Linked DNA regions of Homo sapiens: all the other regions are linked to region 1. The links come from fine-mapping of genetic effects on gene expression. A gene starts in region 1. Each other region holds a variant in brackets. All regions are shown on one strand. Distances are between the middles of the regions.

Region 1 (5,220 bases):
GAGCTCACCATATTCGTGATTGTTTGCTTTTGAACTGCATGGTGGTAGGGAGGTGCTCCTTACAATTTTCGCTTTGCATACATTTATTCCTTGATTCAACCCACCACCACTTCCACTGCTGTCACTCACTGGTTCACCAAAGGTTAGGTAATTATTTACTTGTTTTCATTAATCTTTCTATATGTATGCATAGCTCATATTTATTTCAATGTTCAATATCAGAAGTGTTTTGGGTCTTTATTTGGAAGCTGGGTGATGTTTTGTGACCAGAAATATGCTGTAGGAACTTAGCTCTTGTTTATATTAATTAGCCTGTGGTAAAATTGGTTTTGTTATACGTTGTTTCACTTAGTCCCAGTTGCCAAGGACCTACCAATGATGTTAAATGAGGACCTACTGTACTACATAATTCACTTATTTATTGTGTTTATTTTTGTCTGTGTCCTCTCACTAGGAGGTAAGCTCCCCAAGGGCAGGGATTTGTTCTGTTTGTTCTGTTTTATTTTGTTTCCTGCTATATCCCCAAATCCTACAACAGTGTCTGGCACACAGCAAGTGTTCCACGCATATTTGTTGAATTAAGAATGAATCTCTGAGGGCCGGGCACAGTGGATCACACCTGCAATCCCAGCACTTTGGGAGGCCAAGGTGGGTGGATCACTTGACGTCGGGAGTTCGAGACCAGCCTGGCCAACGTGATGAAACCCCATCTCTACTAAGAAAATACAAAAATTAGCCGGGCGTGGTGGCAGGAGCCTGTAGTCCTAGCTACTAGGGAGACTGAGAGGCAGGAGAATCGTTTGAACCTGGGAAGCTGAGGTTGCAGTGAGCTGAGATCACGCCACTGCACTCCAGCCTGGGTGACAGAATGAGAATCCATCTCAAAAAAAAAAAAAAAAAAAAAAAAGAACCTCTGTATCCCTAATACCTAGGTCAAGGTCTTGCACAGAGCAGGTGCTCAATGAATATTTGCTGAATTGAACTGAGATGTAAATTCTGCAGGAGAACTTAGAATAGACCTGTCGTACTAGAGTGGTTCACAGCGTGGACTCTGGAGTCAAATAATCAGGATTTGCATCCTGATTCTGTCACTTCCAGCTGTGTTACCTAGCTGTGTTAACATCTTTGAGCCTCAATTTCTCATTGGTAAAATGAAGATAATAATAGCATCAGCTTGGTAGGATTTGGGTTTGCGTGTTATGCACTTAGGACTTTGTAAAGACCCAATAATTGGTAGCTAAAAACAAAACAAGAACTGCAAAAAAGATAGTCTTTCTTGTATGTCATCCTTCCTCCATTCCCCCGACAAGCTGAGCCAGGAGAGGGTAAGGAGATGTCCTTGGACAAGTATTCCTAAGCTCTATTCCAGACCCATAGAAGGGTTTCTCTCTCTTCAAATCCCTTCTTACCTTTTCACCTGTCCTGGACTTTCATCTTGATATCCTGAAGTTCCTTCCCCCATCATAACCATGCAGGGGTGGAGTGGAGGAGATAGGGGTTTGTGGGCCAGGGACAAGGACTTAGAGCTTTCTGTTAATCCCTGTTCTAGGGTTGAGTTCTTTACTGGTGATGGTAGAAGGTCAAGTGTGAGGTCACAGTAATTTCAGGGCCTAGAGACTGAGAGAACAATAGTCTTGTGTAGGAGGCATTGACAGGACAGCGGGCCTCATATGCTGCCTTCTTCTTTGGTCCCCTGTAAGAGAAAGCACCTCCCTCACCCTGCTCCAACGTCCTTTCTGTCCATCCTGCTACCTCGTCTTTACTTCTGGTGGCCCCAGCTCAGAGCAAGCCTGGGGACCCATTGAACATCTCCCTGCAACTCCCTCTTGGAAGTGGGGTGGGGTGGAGTGGGCAGAGGACAGGCTAAAACTGGCGATATAAGGGCACAAGATCGGGTGCCTGAGCTTTCTGGTGGCCCACGTCCTCTGCCCCCGCCCTTAGAGCCAACAGTTCCCTAGAGATTGGGGGAGCTGGGGCTGAGCCTGGGGGCGCCGCTGCCTCTGTTCCTTTAAGTAGCCGCTGTTTAGCATTCCTGCCGCCGCCGCTGCCGCTGCCGCTGCCTGCCTCTGCGCGCTGATTGGCTGGAATCAACTGAGAAGGGAGCCAGGGAGAGATGCTCTTGACTCCACTCAGATCCATCCTGGGGACCAGAGCAGAAGCGGTCCTCACAGCACCCATTCTCTGCTTGAGCTCCCGCTTCTTCTTTGCCGCTGGGCCTCGGCCCAGAAGCCACGACGGGCGACACGGAGCCGCCAGTGCTGGAGGGGGAGCCGTGGGTGCGGGGCAGCGTGGGGGCCGAGGCCCCGGGACGCCCGCCCGGCCCCAGGCCCCGCTCAGCCCGGGCGCCCCCACGGGTGCCCCCCCCTTCTTGGTCCGAGCAGTGTGAGTGTGCCAGGGAGCCCGGCGGCGGCGGCGGCGGTGGTGGCGGCGGTGGCGGCGGCGTGGAATCCGGCGTGGGCTGGGGGGTCCGAGCCGCGGGGGGCAGTGCCATGCACAAGCACCAGCACTGCTGTAAGTGCCCTGAGTGCTATGAGGTGACCCGCCTGGCCGCCCTGCGGCGCCTCGAGCCTCCGGGCTACGGCGACTGGCAAGTCCCCGACCCTTACGGGCCAGGTGGGGGCAACGGCGCCAGCGCGGGTTATGGGGGCTACAGCTCGCAGACCTTGCCCTCGCAGGCGGGGGCCACCCCCACCCCTCGCACCAAGGCCAAGCTCATCCCCACCGGCCGGGATGTGGGGCCGGTGCCTCCTAAGCCAGTCCCGGGCAAGAGCACCCCCAAACTCAACGGCAGCGGCCCCAGCTGGTGGCCAGAGTGCACCTGTACCAACCGGGACTGGTATGAGCAGGTATGGACCAGCGGAGGGGGGAGCGGTGGGGCAACCCAGGAGGGCTGGAGAGTGGGGGCCTAGAGGCCTGGGATGCAGTAGGGGTCGCTGGGGCTCCAAGCCTGTGGACCCCGAGCCCTAGCATTGCAGCTGGGCAAAGAGAGGCGGTGGGAAATGTGTGGTTCCCTGTGTGTGTCTGTTTGGGGGTCTCCATTAGAAGACTGGGAGGAGCCGTGTGTCAGGGGGTAAGGGCATGGCGGAGGGGCACATTTTCCTGTGTGGGGGAATTGGGTTTGTCTCAGTGTGGGGGTTTGGCAATGTCTCTGTGTCTGGCAGGGGGCGGGAGGTTCTGCGGGGGCTGTGTGTGGTGTGTGTCTCCACCGGAGGGGAGGGGAGGGGGCATGGTGCTCTGCGTAGGGGGGACATATGTGTGTGTATGTATGTTGGGGTGTGTGGAGGAAGGCAATGGAGCTGCCGTGAATCCGTGTGGAGGAGCCCATGTGCCCGGCTCGCTGAGCTTCATCCCTTGATGCCATGAGTCCCTCTCCGTCCCAGTCCCTTTGTGTGTGAATGTGCACATGGATGTGTGGAGATGTCACTCTGAATGTGGAGAGGTCTCTGTAGAGGAGGCTGCAGGGATGGCTGTGTTTGTGTGTGTGGCTACATGTATATGTGTGTGAGCATGTGGCTGCAAGAGTGTGCACGCGTGTGCCTGGTGTGTGTGTGTGAGTGTGTGTTTGTATGTGTTGTCTCTGGTGAGAGGCGCTTGACAGGCAAGGGAGGGGAGAGGAAGGAGGCGAGAGACATGTCCCAAGCAAGGCTGAGAGGCTGCTGAGAAGGACGGACTCTTTTGTCCAAGCAGCTCTGTAGTGTGTGTGCCGGGGTGGGGTGGCGGGGGGCGGGGGGAGATTTGAAGGAACTGAAGCAAGCCTCCTCGCTCTAGAGCAGGCATGGTGCCTGGAGCCGGCAAGGGGCAGCTGCCCTGGTGCAGAGACTGGCCCCAGTGGGGCATGTCCCCCTTGGGTACCTCCAGATGTGAGAGGGCTTAGCCCCCCAGCCCTGACTTGGCACAGCTTGGGAGCCCCTGGGTGCTGGGCACAACTCCGGCTTCCACTCCCAGCCTAAACTGCCAGCTTAGAAAATGGAAGGAGCATCTGTGGGAGAAGCAGCAAAATGGAGGCTGGGCTGGCAGAGCCAGGTCCCTGGCACGCAAGGCGGAGGGCCTGTCTGGTTATCCGGCTCTGCAGCTCCTAGGGTGGGGAGAGAGGAAGAGGAGGCTTTGCTGTCGAGGGCAGGTGATGACTTCCCCAAGCTGGTGACCGTTCTGGCTGCCTCTGTCCTCTGGGGATAGGATGTGCTCTCACTCAGAGGCAAAGGTGGGGACTTCCTGGGGAGAAGAGCCCTCAGTTCTGGCCTTCTGTCTGTCCACACTTACTGCTTTCCCACATCCCTTGCCTTGGCCTCTTGCCCTTTCCAGCGAGTCCCTCTCTCTCCTTTGCCCCCTCTCTGTCCTGGAGGCCTTTCTCTCGCAAACACCCTCTTATGCTTGTCCTGCCCGGCTGGGAGACAGGTGGCAATCCCAGGCTGGGCCAGTTGGCCAAGGTTTCTTTGCCAGGGCTGATCCCTGGATGGCTCCTGGCCCTGAGAACAAGGTCCTTGAGTAGGGGTGGGGGCTAGAGCGTGGACCACTGGGAACGGGAAGCCTCTGGGTACCACTGGGGCTGGGCTTGAGGCATGGCTTGTCACATGTGGGCACACATGGTACACCAAATGCACACAAGAGCCACATGGGTGTCCCTTTGCTTATGTGTCTGTTGCATGGTACTTAAGGCAGCTGTGTTGGTTTCGGGTCTCTAAGGAGCCTTCAGTTCTTCTTCCTGGGGTCACAGACCAGGGTAAGGCTGTAGCTGGAGTCCTCCCACCAACTCCCACAGCTGCAGAGCCAGCCCAGAAATGGTGGAGGCATGATGAGCTAGTCCTCTCTCCCTCTCCTCCTCTCTGCTTCTTGAAGCCAAAGCTGTGTGGGGTGGAGGTGGGACGGGGGAAGCACAGCAGGACATGTGGAGGAGCCCCCACCCTGGTTTCCAGCTCCCCACTTCTGAGGAGGAGGCTAGAGGTCAGGGAAGGGACAACATAGCCAGAGAAAGGTGGGGGAGGGGTGCCAGGGTACCTGGGGAGACAGGCAAGAGGGCTTCTCCATTCTTGGAGGTGAAAGTGGGAGCCAGCAGGCAGGTGCTGCTTGTATGTCCAGAATCACATTTTCACTTGACAAATAGATACACACATGTCCTGTCTGGGAGGCCATCTCTGTGGGTTGGCCAAATCACCCCTGTGTTTCTGACCCCTTCCCTTGCCTCTTCTTGCATGGCTACTACATATTGAAAACCATGGACTC
Region 2 (5,220 bases), 25 kb after region 1:
TTGTTTGTTTCATTTTTGTTTATGAGATGGAGTCTCACTCTGTCGCCCAGGCTGGAGTGCAGCGGCGCGATCTCGGCTCACTGCAACCTCTGCCTCCTGAGTTCAAGCGATTCTTGTGCTTCAGCCTCCTGAGTAGCTGGGATTACAGGTGCCCGCCACCATGCCCAACTAATTTTTGTATTTCTAGTAGAGATGGGTTTTCACCATGTTGGCCAGACTGGTCTCAAACTCCTGACCTCCGGTGATCCGCCCGCTTCGGCCTCCCAAAGTGCTGGGATTACAGGAGTGAGCCACGCGGCACCTGGCCTAGTATAGCATTTTCACTCAGTAGCTCTTCTTGCATCCTCACTAAGCTCTTTGGGGGACAAAAACATCCAGTCAATAGGGATAAACTGGAAATTTTTATGGCATGCTGATCCGGCATGTTTTGTTTTCTGTTTTCTTCTCAGTATCCTTCAGGATGGTATCCAGAACCCTGGCTATGTGTGTGTATGGCCGAGGAAGCATACACAGTGACAGTGCAGGGACCAGAATAAGGACACCCAGCTTTCTGGGTTAGTCATAGTTCCAAAATTATTCTAAAAGTAGAACTGAAATTATTTTTCCTCAAGCAATATTTGCCCATTGAAGCCTATTTGCCATATTTCTGCCCTCTCACATAGCCTTGAGAAATATTTTTGGTAATTTATGTTTATTGATTTGGTATTGTTTTTACCCAAAGAGTTTAGAATTATTTGCAGATTTGAAGATTTCCCTCTCTAAATTATATTTAAAAATTAAATCAGACTAGTTCTAACTTTGATTCCGTATGGACCTCATTGATTTGGTCATAAAATCATAATGATGTCATAATTAGAAGGGATCTTAGAAATTATCTAGTTTTAGAGGTGTTAGACAACACCTCTAAACAATGGACCCATCATTAGAAACTAACCCAAGTAATAGGCTTCATTATTATTATTTTCAGACAAGGTGTTACTCTGACACCCAGGCTGGAGTGCAGTGGTGTGATCATAGCTCCCTGTAGCCTTGAACCCCTGGGCTCAAGCGATCCTCCTGCTTCAGCCTCCTGAGTAGTTGGGACTACAGGCGTACACCACCACGCCTGACTAATTCTCTTATTTTTTTTGCAAAGACAGGGTCTCAATATGTTGTGCAGGTTGGCCTCAAAATCCTGGCCTCAAGCAATCCTCACACCTTGGCCTCCCAAAATGTTATGATTACAAGTGTGAGCCACTGCATCTGGCCCCATAACTATTTTATAAAGACAAGTTTGTGATTCCTAGAAATGTTCTGATATTTGGCAATTCATATACTTACTCCATACTAACAAGTATCTTCTTAATGGGCTTATTTTACTTTCACCTCCATCCATTTCTTTCTTTTTTTTTTTTTTAAGATGGTGTCTCACTCTGTCACCCAGGATGGAGTGCAGTGGTGTAGTCTCGGCTCACTGCAACCTCCCCCTCCCAGGTTCAAGTGATTCTCATGTCTCAGCCTCCTGAGTAGCTGGCATTACAGGAGCCCACCACTATGCCTGGCTAATTTTTTGTATTTTTTTTTAGTAGAGATGGGGTTTCACCATGTTGGCCAGGCTGGTCTCGAACTCCTGACCTCAAGCAATCCACCTGGCTCAGCCTCCCAAAGTGCTGGGATTACAGGCGTGAGCCACCGCGCCAGCCCATCCATTTCTTTTTAAAATATGAACCATAGTGTGAAGGTTTATACTCCAAAGGCAAATATAGGAACCTAAACCACAATTCATACTCCTCAAATTCTGTGACTCTCTCTGAGGCTGTAACTTCACTTCCACCAGAGTTCTGTTATTTTTCACAATTGGTGACTTATTTCTTTGAGCCTCAGGGCAGCTCAGCAATGGCAAATGAGGGCTGTATGAGTTTGAGATTTGAATGTCTGCACTTCCATAAGATGGAAAGAACTTTTTGGGCAGCAGTTGATTTATTTTGAGGTTATAGGCAACTAAAACACGAGCCATTATTCAGCCATGTCTTCCCTACTCAATATTTGTGTGGGAACTCAAGGTCAAGAAGATACAGTTCTCTATTTCACTTTATTTTTATTTGCATCTTCTGATTCTTTCTACCTATCATAATCTGTGTGTTTGAAGTCTGTCATCCAGTTGCTTCCCCAGTGTCATCGTCATTTCTAATTTTTTTTTTTTGAGATGGAGTCTTGCTCTGTTGCCCAGGCTGGAGTGCAGTGGTGTGATCTCAGCTCACTGCAACCTCTCTGCCTCCTGGGTTCAAGCGATTCTCGTGCCTCAGCCTCCTGAGTAGCAGAGATTATAGGTGTGCACCACCACGCCTGGCTAATTTTTGTATTTTTAGTAGAGACAGGGTTTCACCATGTTGGCCAGGCTGGTCTCAAACTCCTCATCTCCAGTGGTCCGCCCACCTCGGCCTCCCAAATTGCTGGAATTATAGGAGTGAGCCACTGCACCCAGCGTCATTTCTAAATTTGATAGGCAGGATGTTATTTTGTAGCTTTTCCCTTTTATATCTTCATTCGAGTCATTGGTAGTCTGTACTATATGCAGAATAAATATCGTCTGTTGCTACCACTTGTTTCCTGTCTCTACAATATTTTCCTGCCTATAATCAAATAGAACCAAATAAACAATACAGGTTGAGAAACTGAGCACCTCTCAGCTTTCCAAATTAATAAAAAATGTCATCTTTAATTTTTGACAATTTTCCTGTCATTAGGCAGGTAGATGGATTTGGAAGCAGAGGCTTAGAGGAGAGACGGACTTGGAAGCCTGGGTGTGTGTCCAGTTCGCAATAGGGAACTTGTAGTTTCAGTCCCCTTTGATGCCTTATTGGGCTGTTAACTATGTCTTGAAACCTCTGACATGTTAGTGTTTTGCAGAAGTGGTTCGTGGTTTTGTTGGTCAG[T/G]TTTTAGCATGTTTGGGTGGGTGAAAGGAGAAAGTTTGTATTCCTTTTTTTTTTTACATTTGTTCCTGAGGAGCCAAAATTTGAGAATCACAGAGTCCAGGTTTGTCCTGTCAGACCTCTATATCCAGTTGGCACATTCAATAAATGTTGACTCAACAGGGGTGCAGATCGCCACACTAAACCTTGAGAAGGAAGCAAAAACCACATCAAGGAGCTTATATTTTAGTAAATGACATCACCACTAATTCTGAGCACTAGATTTTAAAAGGGTGAGGTAGTGGAGGGTTAGGAAACTATGTTGGATGAAGAATGGTTAAGGAAATAACAACATTTAGCCTGGAGAAGACATAACTTTTTTTTTTTTTTTTGAGACGGAGTCTCCCTCTGTTGCACAGGCTGGAGTGCAGTGGTGCGATCTCGGCTCACTGCAAGCTCCGCCTCCTGGGTTCACACCGTTCTCCTGCCTCAGCCTCCTGAGAAGCTGGGACTACAGGCGCCCGCCACCACGCCCGGCTAATTTTTTGTATTTTCAGTAGAGACGGGGTTTCACTGTGTTAGCCAGGATGATCTCAATCTCCTGACCTCGTGATCCGCCCATCTCGGCTAAGACATAACTTTTTGAGGACATTCTTGAGATCATTCTTCATTATGGCTGATATTATCCCACCTTTTCCATGTCTCCAAGGAAAAAACTCAGATTCTTTGCCTTTGATCCTTTCTCACTCTACATCCAATCAGATGTCAAATTTTCTCCCTTCAAGCCCCAATATATTTCTTTTTTGTCTTTCTCCACTTTTGAAGGATCCAACATATTTCTTGATTCCTGTCTCTTCTTTCTGTCTTCATTGCCCTTATACTATGTCAGGCCTTTATAATTATTGTCTGTAGTAGTAGAGCAGCTTCCCGGTCTCTGTTATCTCTCTCTCTCTGTCCTCCAATTCTGTCTTACACTCCCAGAATAATTTTCCCTCAAACCTAGTTCTAATTGTGTTACTTTCCTGTTTAAACACTTAAACGCAGTTCCCATTGCCTAGTAAGAGAAGTGCTATCTCAAGCACTTATAATCTGGCCTGCAACCTACCATTACTTCCCCTTCCCCTGTTTGCACTCTGCCATCTACTCCCATTTTATTCAGTAGTCTTGTTCCAGTCTTTTCCAACTCTTTGACCTTCTTTAAACTATTCCTTCACACTGTTTTGAAGGAAAGAACCCATCATGTTTTATGCTGTTTTAGACATGAAAATTAGGACCAGCTGGCAGAAGGGATGGCGCTAAACCAAAAAATTTTCTCGGCTGGGTGCAGTGGCTCACGCCTATAATCCCAACACTTTGGGAGGCCGAGGTGGGTGGATCACTTGAGGCCAGGAGTTTGAGACTAGCCTGGCCAACATGGTGAAACCCCGTCTCTACTAAAAATACAAAAAAATTAGTTGGATGTGGTGGCGGGCACCTGTAATCCCAGCTACTCCGGATGCTGAGGCACAAGAATTCCTTGAACCTGGGAGGCGGAGCTTGCAGTGAGCCGAGATCACACCACTGCACTCCAGCCTGGGTGACAGAACGAGACTCCTGTCTCAGAAAAGAAAAAGAAAAAAAAAGAATTAGAGAGCTTCCCAGTATTGGACATGTTTGAGCAGAGGCTGAAGGGCTAGCTGGTTTGGATGCTGTAAGAGCAGGGGCTTCTTATACTAGGGGCTGTGGAGAATACACAAACATAGAAAGCATGTGCTTCGTCTGTCAAGAAACTTAAATGTAGATATAAGACACTTCACTTATTCTCTCCACAGTAGCCAAAGTGACACACATATCTGATCATGTCCTTCCGTTCCTTAAAATCATTCAATGGCTTCTTTCCATTGAGAAAGAATTTATCTTAGGATAAAAGCAAATAACCTGTCCGGGCGCAGTGGCTCACACCTGCAATCCCAGCACTTTGGGAGGCCGAGGTGGGCAGATCACCTGAGGTCAAGAGTTCAAGACCAGCTTGGCCAACATGGTGAAACCCTGTCTCTACTAAAAATACAAATATTAGCTGGGAGTGGTGGCAGGCGCCTGTAATCCCAGCTACTCAGGAGGCTGAGGCAGGAGAATCGCTTGAACCTAGGAGGTGGAGGTTGCAGTGAGCTGAGATCATGCCATTGCACTCCAGCCTGGGTGACAAGAGCGAAACTCCGTCTCAAAAAAAAAAAAAAAAAAAAAGCAAATAACCTTACCATAGTTTACAAGGCCTTGTATGATCTGACCCCTGCTTACCTCTTAGTCTGATCTCCTGCCAGTATCCCCTTGCTTTCCTGTGTTCCATACA
Region 3 (5,220 bases), 33 kb after region 1:
ATTCTGTAAGTTAAGACCAGCAGCTCCAAACTTTATCAGAATCACACTGATGCTTGTTAAAATGCAGATTCCTGGGCCCCTGCTCAGTAGATTCTGATTCTGTGTATCTGGGATGGGGTGCCAAATCCTGATCTTTTAGAGGCACCCCAACTTGTCAGTGACTGGGGCAAAACCCTTCTTCGGTACTGACTTCTGATTGTGCCCCCTCCCACTTGTTTCTCTGTGATTAGCAACTGGGAAAAAGGAAAGAGGGCGATGACTGGATATCTTTGTGGGTCACAAACAGTTGGGTTCATCTGAATGGGAAAAAACAAAGCAGTTTAGTAGACTTGAGATTTTAGTGTTGCTTCTTTGAAGTGGGCCCTCTGGGTTAGAGGCTGGTCAGGTGGGCTTCCTAGGCGGTGACTTTGGCCTAGGAGATGTCCTCCAGCATTGGCTGCGATGGCTGTGTTAGTGACAAATCAGAGGGAAGGAGGGAGCTTGGCGAGTCCTGAAGTCTTAGAATTGAGATGCTTTTTAAGGGAAGCTTTTGTCCTGGGAAAATGATACCTCTAATATTTAAGATGAGGTAGTATCTAAGTCTATTCTAAACAGTTTTTTGTTAGAATGATTTTTCTTTGTTGTAAAAAGTTGTTAATCAGCCGCCTATTGTGGGTTGTTAACATCTCAAAAGGGTGTTTAAAAATAATAAACCCCAATTGCTCCCAACAATTAACCTTGGGAACAAAAGTAAATGTGAATGCTTCTTAACCACCTTTCTAAGCCCTCAGTGAAGCTGGCAGCCATCAGTTAAATAAACCATTAAGTTTATTAGTTTAAGAATAGAAGTGTCAACTTGGACACAGTTTTCTAATTTGCTCCTCATTTACCCAACAATCATTTATTCAAAGGCTGCTCTGCCTAGTAGACTTTAGATAAATCTACAAATAAAAGCCAGAGACTGATGGGCAGCTGGAACTCTAAGGGAATCATCCAAATGGAAAAAAAAGTGAATAAAACACAATTTAATAAACTTGAAATTTTAGCAGCACATGTAAAAACAAAAAGCGTATGCCTTAGAGCAATAGCTTTGTTCTCTTTCTGTAGTCTATTTTAAGTGGGCCCTCTGGCCCAGAATTATCAGCCTTGGATTAGGAGCTTTGAGGAAATGGTGGTTTCGTGGTTGTTTTTTAAAGGATTTTTAAAGAAATGTAGTTACTAAGCAACTGCCATGACCTGCTGCTAAGTTGGAGTTCAGCGGGCAAGTCGATTCCAAAGAAGGGAATATATAAACAAGTTTCAAGAAGGGGAAAACATGGCTTAAAGATAGATTGGGTGTACTTTTTTGTTCACAGTTCAATGCATAGTTCTTTCTCTCTTTGACTTATCTTCCCCTAAGAAAGGGCTGCCTGGTCAGAAATCTTTGTCTCACACGGTTCTGCCCATAGCCGGTGAGCTCAGAGGAGGGCCAGAAAGGAACAAATGAGAAACAATCCCCACCCAGTGTAGAGGGCCAAGCCCTGGGGTGGGGCCAGCACCCAGGCGGTCTCCAGAGGTAGACTGGCCTGCTGTTATGCTCTAGGACAGTCCAGGGCTTAGGTTGGGGCACCTCATTGATATTGATGGCTTGCCGTGTAACCCTCAGAACAGGAACATTGTCCAGCTGTTGTCTCTCTACCCTCCGCCACCCCACCCCCCGCAACGTTTAATGGGTGAGTCAGTGACTTAACTGCTTCCTCCAGGATTTCAGGAACAGGAGTAGGTAATGAGGACAAATCACCATAACACCGGCGTGTGATGAATGAAAGAGCACACGAATTTAACCCGTTGGTTAAACTGATATCACAGTGAACAAAAGAAACTTTGTTGAGAGGAGGTTATTTGCCTCACTCCATTCCTTCCCCTTTAGGCTTTAGCAATTCCCCTTACACCCAGTTGAAGGTCAGTCTGGTTGCTTTGCAGAGGGAAGGGGAGTGTCAGGTGCTGGAACAGGTGTTTTGTTTTCTCCTGTAGAGTCATACGGACTAGGTGGGGATGCTTCTTGCCAGCCCTCTATGGTGCACGAAATTGCTTTTGTGGAATTTTTTCCCCTGGAAGTGTGTTTGTTTTTTAAAGCAGTTTCCCAACCTTCAACCCCTAGTATAAATTTTGACTCGCTTCAAAGTCAGCTTGTCATAGTGAAGTGTGCCTGTTTTCTAGCATTTCCACGGCCTGTGGCCTTAGATATACCCCATTTTATGCGGCAATTATAGGCCTGGAAAATGTGTAATTGTGTGTTTGGTAAGTGTGAATATTGTATTTTAAATGTCCTAGGAGAATGTCACAGCAAAGCAGCCCTATAAAAAGCCTTTTATAATAATTGTACAGCTAGAGTTAATTTTCTTGTATCAGGTTTTCTTAAATTCGGCATAAACCTGTATTACATTTCCAGAGTGATAAGGCTGTTTCCAGCTGTTGTGATGGTCTCAATGGGCTATAAGGTTAGGGATGGACTTATGACCTCACTGACTGGATGATTTTGGAGGTGAGAGGTGTCAGCCGACTTCTCGGTTTGGGAGAATTTATGTTTTAATGTATGCTACTGAAGCCAAAGAGGCTATTGGTTAAAAGGGAAATAACTCAGGAGAGCTTTAATTCTCCTCATATGGTTGTTACGGTTGTGAGGTTTGTTTGTTTTTACCTCTGTACTGGGTTCCAATATCACCCCCCTTCACCCCAGCCAAAAAGTCATCCTGAAAAAATTGTCTTCTTGCCTAACAATGATATAATTGACCTCAGGTCCTTTCCAGCCCCTCCGCTCTGCGTCTCAGGGCCATCTGTTCTCTGCAATCCGCTTTTTGGGAAAGTCTCCTTTCCCATCTGCTCTCCTTGGGCCTTAGTGTC[A/T]GCTCTAAAGATTTATAAAGGTTGCACTGGAACCTCTTTCCAGTTGTTATTTTTATAAAGGATCAGTGACATTTTGAGGCAGATAAGAGCTTTGTGCATTTGACCTGCCCAAATGCTACTCCCTTTTCAGGTGCATTCTTTCCTTCTGTTAGTCTGGGGTTGAAGGGAAGTCTGTCTTTCTGTGCTTAGGAGGAGGGACTTTGCTTATCAAAGCAAAGACTGAGTGGGCTGGCTCTGGCTGCTTTTAAGCCAAGGGGCCTTCTGGCTTTTTGGCTGCTGGCATGCAAGCTCAGAGGCGCTCCTTGAGTTCATTCTTTTCCCATCTTTTCCCTTGTTTCCGTGACAGAATACAGTCGCTTTGAATCGAAGATACATGACTTACGAGAACAAATGATGAACAGCAGCATGAGCTCTGGGTCTGGGTCCCTCCGAACAAGTGAAAAGAGGTCCTTGTATGTCAGGTAAGTTGCCCTTCAGAGCACTAGCCCTTGTGCTGGACGAGGAGAGCTCCATGCCAACCCAGCCCTTCTTATTTAACTAGTGGGCTAGGGAGTATGTACTCCCAGTTCTAAAATAACGCTTCTCACTGTATGCTTAGGTTGTGTATTTTATGGTCAGTGTCTCCTCCCTTTTGTGAGCTGGCTTCTTCCTTTTAGCTCATGAATGACTCAGTATGGGAAAATTTCAGTTTGCTCTAATTGTAAAAGACTGTTGGGTGATTGTTGCTAGTCAGCATTCAAATATCAGTCAAATGTTCAAAGTACTTTGCTTGCAATCTGTGCTTTGAGGGGAAACTTGCCACCCCCCCATCCCCTTCCATGTATGCATAATAGACATCAGGATTTGTATCTGAGCATAGCAACTATCGCAGTGTTCTGGTACAGGATCTCTTTTAAGAGACCAAAGAACTGACAGGTTGCTGCATTCTGGATGTTTTATTGTGATTCCATTCCCCCCTCACCACCCGCTGCACTGGTCTGCTGTATCTATGAATCATGGGATGTATAGTGTATGTGCCCTAGGAAGAGGGAGGGGGTGGAGGGAACAGATAGGTAGCATGGAGTATATTGCTGCTGAAAGCTATTCCAAGATATTTCCAAGGTTGAGCTTCTCTGACCCTTGAGGCATAGCTTAATACTTTGTCAGGTCAAAGTACAAATCTCCTGGGGAGTTGGAGTGCCAAGTGAATACTGTGGACTCCTCATAGAATTAGGGATAGCTTCCTTCTTCCTGCTTTGGCTTCTTGGCAAAACTCCAAAATCTGGTGCCAAGTACATTGTATCCTCCAAGGTTAAAGCCCTTAGAGAAAGGTGGTGGGGATTACTCTCCTGAGCCAGAAGTTGCTACAGTATTGTGTTTAATGCTTAGGTGTGGGGTCATATCAAACTCTTGGGCTGAACTTTTTCTAGTGGCCTCTGATACCTGGCTGGGAAGTTGCACTTGCTAGTTGCTTGGCAACGTGACAACTGCTCTGTCCTTGGGGTGTGAGAGGACAATAGTGAAGGGATGTCAACGCTAATTGCAGTTTTTCTCATGGTGCTTGCTTTTCTTTTTCCCCAGTTGGTGGTCCCTGACTCTACCGCAGGGAGTGGAGCTAAAGGAGCCCATCTCTGAGCCTGAAGCCCACTAGAACCCTTCACAATCTTTCCTAATGTGAACCCTCAACTCCACCCCTTGTGTGTTGAAAGCATGTGCTATGCTTACCTCCCGCTGTGAAGGGAGAATGGTAGGAAGGCGGGACTAGTCACTGGTCATTTTTCCAATTCCCCGGAAAGGAAAGTTTTGTTTTCTGTCACTAAAGCCCTTGCTCCCAGTCTGCAGCCTGGATACTGGGGTGCTGATGGGTGAAATCAGAAATGCACTGTCGACCCCCCAAAATAGGTAATGGTTATATGACTTGGTCAGGATTGTTCCGTTCCGTGCTTCCAGCCCCCGCAGATGTGGCACTCCAGTGTGCGTGGGAAGCTGCTCTTTAGGCAAGACAGTTTCTTTGGAGAGCTTTATTTTTAGATTTCCCCTCTCCGCCTATCCTGTGTTAGAGTTCTCTCTGCCTGGGCAGGGGGAGTGGGACATTGGCTCCCGATATGGAGCACTCTTCCCTGGCTCAGGCAAGGGAATTAAAGGGATACACTTAGCTTAACTCTGGGGCGAGGGTGGAGACCATGACTGTGTCTAGTGAATCAGTTTATATAATCTGCCCGTAACCTTCTCTAGATAAATTATCTGTATCCTCTGAGGAAAGTAGATGTGGTTAGGAAAATAGTAACCATTTGTGATCACTAGATTTAATCAGGGGCACTTAATGTCTTATGGCTAAAGCATTGAGCTGAGGCCCTTTGCTAAGCTAACCCCTTTATC

Alleles and levels. Positions count from the first base shown, and alleles are read on the strand shown. Sizes are in standard deviations (SD) of each study's normalised expression. Not every link is listed here.
For the expression in cerebellum of the gene that starts at base 2,123 in region 1, allele A in region 3 goes with a higher level than allele T (moderate effect, 0.45 SD a copy in GTEx).

The links.
Region 2: its variant is fine-mapped to the expression of DLG3 in whole blood (TOPMed, PIP above 0.99). The same link has a PIP of 0.9 or more in blood mononuclear cells.
Region 3: its variant is fine-mapped to the expression of DLG3 in cerebellum (GTEx, PIP above 0.99). The same link has a PIP of 0.9 or more in cerebellar hemisphere.

The regions. Positions count from the first base shown.
Region 1 is chrX:70,442,713-70,447,932 of GRCh38, forward strand. DLG3 (discs large MAGUK scaffold protein 3) reads left to right here and starts at 2,123. Exons shown (of 19, transcript NM_021120.4): 1 at 2,123-2,846. The coding sequence starts at 2,490. RefSeq lists an enhancer at 1,641-2,427.
Region 2 is chrX:70,468,065-70,473,284 of GRCh38, forward strand. All of the region lies in intron 9 of DLG3 (discs large MAGUK scaffold protein 3), which reads left to right. Among named protein-coding and RNA genes, the nearest start is that of DLG3-AS1, 15 kb to the left of the region's middle. The variant T/G (reference allele first, on the strand shown) is at 2,916.
Region 3 is chrX:70,475,942-70,481,161 of GRCh38, forward strand. DLG3 (discs large MAGUK scaffold protein 3) reads left to right here. Exons shown (of 19, transcript NM_021120.4): 10 at 3,209-3,323. Among named protein-coding and RNA genes, the nearest start is that of DLG3-AS1, 23 kb to the left of the region's middle. RefSeq lists enhancers at 1,154-2,052, 4,111-4,612. The variant A/T (reference allele first, on the strand shown) is at 2,863.